Homo sapiens: one gene and its partner. The protein of the gene in region 1 purifies or fractionates together with the protein of each later gene. This does not show direct contact. Each region holds a gene or a part of one and is shown on either strand. Other genes may lie near its edges.

Region 1 (4,034 bases):
TATTTAGGAAGTATCTGTCATGATGTCTTTGAATAATTTTCAATGAGTTTATTTCAGTGTGATGATCAATGAGATGGCAAGGAACTCATGTCCTTTTTACTGATTTCCTCATTTTTATAAAATGAGCGTTTTCATTCTTAAATGGCCTTCAATGTCCCATTCTAAGTAATACTTTAATACATCAAATTCCTCACCTTGCATGAATATGTGGCACATTTACCATTGTTTCTCCATCATTAGACAATCCTTCCTGGGCTTGTAACTCAGCTGCATGCCTTTCAAGGTCCTTAGTTAACACCTAAACAGGACAGACATTTACTCTGAAGTTGGAAAACAAAACATCCTCTTTATACAGAACTCTATTTTTATAGAGAATATAAAGTTTATGGACAGAAACAGAATAAAAACAGAAAACTTTAACAGCCCTTTAAATATCTAATATTTAATTATGACTACTTACTTTATAGTGGATGTTTTACATTGGATTTTGCTGTCCCTGTGCTGAAAAACTCCAGCATCCCAGTCTGCTACTTTCTGTCCCAACTAAACCTAACATTAAAAGCCCTTACATTAGTCCCCAAAACCATCACCTCTTGATACTAATTAAAAAAAAAAAAATGCATTCCTATTTCTCTATATTCACTGACCAATCAAGACACAGAAAATAAAAATGACCTTTAAAATACCTAATACTCACTCCCTTGGCATTTAACATTAAATAATATAAACACGCTGGGCGCAGTGGCTCACACCTGTTATCCCAGCACTTTGGGAGGCCAAAGTGGGTGGATCCCCTGAGGTCAGGAGTTTGAGACCAGCCCGACCAACATGGTGAAACCCCATCTCTACTAAAAATACAAAAATTAGCCAAGTGTGGCAGTGCATGCCTATAATCCCAGCTACTTGGGAGGCTGAGGCTGCAATGAGGCAAGATCACACCATTGCACTCCAGCCTGGGCAACAAGAGCAAAACTCCATTTCAAAATAAATAAATAAATAAACAACAAACAAACATTTAATACCACTTGTACACAGCAGTTTGCTGGCAACCTAAGAGGCAAAATAAGATGCATATATACAGCTGTAATTGTCATAAGGACCATAAAGATGTACAGACAAAATACCATGCAAGTTTCGAAAAGTGGTCATGAGAAAGGTTTTACAGACAGACAACTGAGCTAGGCCCAAATAATCTGTCCATGTGAAGGGAAGGGGATTCTATGTTGAATGGACAGCACAGGCAAGAGGTAGAAGAATGCCCCTCTGAATGCCCCAGCACTTTGTGTATGCCTGTCCTGAGATTTGCTATTCATTACCTTGAAGCATGTATCTGTTTGCTAGCCTAAAAAATGTTTTTGGCCGGGCAAGGTGGCTCATGCCTGTAATCCTAGCACTTTAGGAAGCCAAGGCAGGCGGATCACAAGATCAAGAGATCAAGACCATCCTGGCCAACATCGTGAAACCCCGTCTCTACTAAAACTCCAAAACTTAGCTGGGCATGGTGGTGCACCCAGCCACTCGGGAGGCTGAGGCAAGAGAATCACTTGAACCCGGGAGGCAGAGGTTGCAGTGAGCGGAGATCATGACACTGCACTCCAGCCTGGCAACAAAGTGAAACTCCATCTCAAAAAAATAAATAAAAAATAAATTTAAAAAATTTAAAAAGTTAAAAATGTTTTCATATATGTTGTATTACCTGACCCTGAAAAAAAACTCAGGCAAGCACAGTACAAACTGTTATTTACATTTGATATACAGGGACACTCAGTGGTTTGCTTCATGCCACAGAACCTAAATCTAAGGTTGCTCTTTTTTGCTCTAAGTTCATAACCGATAACACCATGATTCCTTGTTTTATCTTCCCTATGAGATTGTATAACTTCTTGAAAGCAAAGTTTAATTTCTGCACAATCTTTAGCAAGATTAAGCAAATCCAAATAAGTTGGAGGTAAATATTTCATTTAGATAAGCTGTTGTATATAGAATGAATGGTATCTTTCAGAACGGAACTGCAACCTCTCAGTTCTAGCCAACATCTTTTCGTAAAAGCTAAGTATCTCTTATAGAAAGTACAGTCACTGTAAAATCTTCCTTTAAACTTAGACAAGGTGTGCATGTGTGTGCAAACATTAAAAAAGTTTAGACAAAAGTATGCATAAGACAAATAGTTACCTGATGTATTGCCAAACCCATGCAAGCCAAGGTTTTCTCAGGTGCATCTCTTAGTTCAGTTGCTATATCTGGTATCAAGTTAGTTACTTCACCACCTTCTGTCAGTTCTTTAAAATCTACCAAAATACTTCCCTTTCTTTCTATTTCATCCTATAAAATATAAAAGTATGAAAACAATAATTGCTTTTCTGTAGTCAATTACCATTAACTGAGCATTCTATTATAGACTTTGAGAAAGCATACAATGTTTATATGTGATAATGGTAAGTATGACATAAGTATAAGCTTTGTGCCAAGCATGGTTCTGATATTTTAAATATATTAATGTATTACTGCCTCTTAACAATCCTTTGAGGTAGGTATTTATACCTCTATCTCCAAATGAAAGAAAACTGAGGCACAGAGAAGTAATTAATCAAAGTCCATACTGCAGGTAAGTGGCAGAACTGAGGTCTGAACCAAGGAAGTCTGACTCCAGTGCCTACGATCATAATCACAAGTACCTCGAATACATTGGTAAGATGGCACATGACTGGTAGCTTTGCTGTAGAGGAATCTTACCTTGTCATACAAATCAATATGCCTTGTGAAAAATTTTTCAAATGCTTGAATCTTCTCAATCAAAGGAGAGCTATCGCTGTAAACTAATCCAACAAATATGGCATTAGCACAAATAATCACACAGGTACATGCACATTTTTCATGAGACAAAAGCAGCACTATATACATGGTAGATGATTTTTTTCTAATTGCTTTGTATTTTGATTACATTCATATAAGAACTAGTATAGAATGTAAACTTAAGATTCTAAAACAAATTTAGGTTTGCATAATGTGAAATGCAGACAGAAACTCTCTCTCTCTAAAAGCCCCACTATCTGGGAAACTTTGTTTTGCATCTTTGACACCTAATAGGACATGTTAGTTCAGATAATTTAGACAATAAGCTTAAACTAAAAATTATAATAAAGCCAAAGCCAGACACATAAACTAAGCTCTTACTCTGACAGAGCTGAAGACAATCACAATCACAGTCTTTCCTGAGATCAGGAGACAGACCAACACTTGACCCTGGTGGCAAAACTGAAAAGCCTTTTTTTTTTTAACACTCTAAAGTTCTACATTTTCAAATATGTCTCTCACAGAAGAACAGTACAATAAAGTAGTTTGGAAGCACAGATGGTGAAGGCTAAGGCACCTCTTGAACTCCATCTTTAGGACTGTCCAAAGATCACTTATAGTGTTCTGAGCTATCTGCTAGGGGAGCAATGGGAGTGCTGGTGGCTAATACATCCTAAAGGAACAAAAGATCATTCATGAAACAGATTCTATTGATGGAAAAAAACGAACAGATTTCCAATAAAGAAAACATTTGTAAAGTACTCTATTCATTCACAAAATGACTACTGCATGCCTGGTATGGGGCAGGGAGGGTCCTGGACCTCAAACGTCTAGTTTTCCTAAAAAAAAAAAGTATGCGGCTGGGTGCGGTGGCTCACGTCTGGAATCCTAGCACTTTGGGAGGCCGAGGCGGGCGGATAACGAGGTCAGGAGATCAAGACCATCCTAGCTAACACGGTGAAACCCCGTCTCTACTAAAAACAGAAAAAATTAGCCGGGCGTGGTGGCGGGTGCCTGTAGTCCCAGCTACTCGGGAGGCTGAGGCAGGAGAATGGCGTGAACCTGGGAGGCAGAGCTTGCAGTGAGCCAAGATCGCGCCACTGCACTTCAGCCTGGGCAACAGAGCAAGACTCCATCTCAAAAAAAAATAAAAAGTATGCACACACACACACACACACACACACACACACACCCCTCATGAGACATAAGAAACAAATGGGTATTTTAACAGCACAAAAAAG
Region 2 (3,184 bases), on another chromosome or scaffold:
GGCAGGAAGGTGAAGAATGATCTAAAGCACAATGAAAAAAATAAATACCCACCTACCCACCCTCTAGTTAGTTGTCTTTTCCACTATAAGGATGTTTAACTATAACTCCATATATTTAAGTATATATGACTGTGTGCCCTTTTGCCTTTTTATACTTATATATTTAAAAATTACATCCAAGAAATAAATTCATTTTTTCTTTAGCCTCTACAATAGAAGAGTTCATATACCTCTTATGAATGACTAACGTACAGGTATTCTTAAATCTTTCAGGGAACTGATGGAGTAGAGTATTTATTAATTCCTGTTGATAATGGAACATTGACTGATTTCTTGGAAAAGGAAGAAGAGGAGGCTTGAAGCTTTCCTTTATTCTTGAATCTCCCATGGAAGGGTTGTACCCCAGCTGCCACTCCTCTAGTTGAAAGTGTTGTGTTTACATCTGACATTAAATTATTTTTCCAGCATACAAGATTTAAATTTGGGAAGGGGGGGATGTCCTCAATTAGAACTTTTTGATCAGCCTGGCTGGTACCGTCTAGTACTATGCAGCGGTCCTCAAGTTGGAGAAAATGTGCCTTTCATTCATTACCTCTCTGGAGACTTCTTGCTGGAATGAACAGTGTGCTCAGGGACTATTTGGAACTGGATGTTTTTGAATTATTTTATACTTAGAGATATTCTGAATTTTTTGAGGGCCTTTTAACACTCCCCGAGCTGATTGTTTGCAAGTGTGTTTGTTCCAGAGTGTGGAAGTATAAAGACATGGGCATCACGTAAATTGGTTTTGTTTGCTATTCTGTGTGTCAGAACCAACGAGTGTAATGGAGAGGGCAGGTCATCTCTTATTGTTTCTAAAACAACTTAAAAGGTGTAGATTGGGAAGAGGTGAGTGATCCAGCTTTCTCCTTTTGGATTGAGGCTATGTACTTGGTGGGGGCAGGGGAGGGAATATATTATAATACTATTCAGTTGGGATAATGGGAAAAACAGAGTATATAGGGTATCTACCCAGCCTAGAAAGCACAGGAACAATACGTCATATATTTGGAACAGTTATTGTCTGTGCCATGACCTTCATGATACCAGTGAGAAGCCAGGCTAGAGAAATAAAATCCTGAATTACATTTTAGTAATTGTTTTCAAGACAACAAAAAATAAAACATTTCATTATTCTTGTATATTGACATATTTTTCTTTTCTTGAACAACATGCAGGTGAGTAGCATATTAATGGCTGGCTGTAAATTAATTTTGATTCCTCTGTCAAGTAGACCTAAAACTCACTGTAAGATATTTCAGTTTTTTCCTTAAAGTGATGATTTCAAACCTCCTGAATATTTGCGCGAGACTTTTTTCTTAGGAAAGAAAAAAGGCTCACCTTGGCTACTGTTGTCAGCTTACAGTCATCACATACCCCCTGAAATATTTGACACTTGGAAATGAAGTTCTTCCTGAAAATATCACTGCAATAAAATACGTACTACGTCAGCATTTCTCACTCATTTCTTATCTTGTAAACCTCTTTCATGAAAATATTTCCAAAAATCCTTGGAATTTTTAAATAATTTTTCTTGTGGCATATAATTAAGTAATTTTGGCCAGGCATAATGGCTTATGCCTGTAATCACAACACTTTGGGAGGCCAAGGCAGGAGGATCTCTGGAGCCCAGGAGTTTAAGAACAGCCTGGGCAACATAGTGAGACCTTGTCTCTACAAAAAATTTAAAAAATCATCCGGGCATGGTGGCCCATGCCTATAGTCCTAGCTGCTGTGGAGGCTGAGGCAGGAGGATCGCTTGAGCCCAGGGGTTCAAGATTACAGTGAGCTATGATTGTGCCACTGCACTTCAGTCTGGGTGCAGAGCAAGACCTTGTCTTTTTTTTTTTTTAAATCATTTTTTTAAAAAGTAATTTTATGTTAAGTCCATGGGCTTAGTCTTTTTTTTTTTTTTTTTTTTTTTAGATGGAATTGCACTGTCATCCAGTCTAGAGTGCAGTGGCGTGATCTAAGCTTACAGCAGCCTCCACCTCCTGGGTTCAAGTGATTCTTGTGCCTCAGCCTCCTGAGCTGGGACTACAGGCACACGCCACCACGCCTGGCTAGTTTTTGAATTTTTAGCAGAGATGGGGTTTCACCATGTTGGCCAGGCTGGTCTCGAATTCCTGACCTCAAGTGATCCTGCCTCGGCCTCCCAAAGTACTGGGATCAGGGGTGAGCCACTATGCCTGGCCAAGGGCTTAGTCTTAAATATAACCTCTAGTCAAAATGTTTAAACAAATTTGTACATAAATGTGATTTAAAAAAATTTTTTTAATAGTACCAAAGGATATTCAGTGAAAGTGAGTTTCCTGCCCACTCCCTGATCCACCCAGTTCTTTAGGCAACCACTGATAGCATTTTCTTAAGTATTCTTCCAGATATCGTCTATGCATATGTAAAAGTATCTGTCTTTCTCCTTTTAAAAACACAATTGGTAATATATCATACTTGCTGGTTTGCACCTTGCTTTTTTTGCTTAATATATCTAGTTTATAATGACCTAATGTGCAAATTTTTGCATCTGCCCTAAATATCTACTGGTTTATTTTTATAATTTTTGTGTCTATACTATTTGCAAGCAGTATGTGTCAGTAGACTTTATTATTAATAAATAAAAAGCCAATTTGGATAGAATCACTTTATAAATTGGTAGTGCTGGTTTTTTACTAAAAATATTTTTAAGTTCTTCAAAAGAAGTTTTATGAGTGCATCTTACAGATCTGGTGAAGATCTTGGCACATTATTGTATGCTGTTTGTTGACTTGTGTCCGCATCGGTGTCCCTGAGGCTCTAGCAATTATGTCTTGACTGATAAGGCTCTAATTTCTTCTACTGTGTTAACTTGCTTCTGGCAAGATTGAACAGATCTACTGAAACCTTGAAAGGTTTTCTGGGTACTCTTAATAAAATTGCAAAAAAAAAAAAAAAAAAAGGCACAGGAGATGTCAAACATTTATTGTTTATAAATTTGCCACAGTGCTGAATTTATTGTGCAAGGACTGCTAAATTAGTTCTCACAGTAGTCCAGAAACTGGACTTTCTTAGCATTGTTTGTTATTTTAATACATGATCACTTCACTCATATAAAAGATCAGTGGAGGCCGGGCGTGGTGGCTCACGCCTGTAATCCCAGCACTTTGGG

The links.
Region 2: the proteins of MCM8 (region 1) and ORC2 purify together in Homo sapiens (affinity purification with western blotting; one study listed by BioGRID). This does not show direct contact.

The regions. Positions count from the first base shown.
Region 1 is NC_000020.11:5,953,390-5,957,423, reverse strand, and holds part of MCM8 (DNA helicase MCM8), read right to left. Parts: intron 2,817-4,034; coding exon 2,734-2,816; intron 2,323-2,733; coding exon 2,173-2,322; intron 299-2,172; coding exon 195-298; intron 1-194. UniProt on the Homo sapiens protein: Component of the MCM8-MCM9 complex, a complex involved in the repair of double-stranded DNA breaks (DBSs) and DNA interstrand cross-links (ICLs) by homologous recombination (HR).
Region 2 is NC_000002.12:200,908,477-200,911,660, reverse strand, and holds the end of ORC2 (origin recognition complex subunit 2), read left to right. Parts: intron 1-273; coding exon 274-360; 3' UTR 361-2,684; downstream 2,685-3,184. UniProt on the Homo sapiens protein: Component of the origin recognition complex (ORC) that binds origins of replication. DNA-binding is ATP-dependent. The specific DNA sequences that define origins of replication have not been identified yet.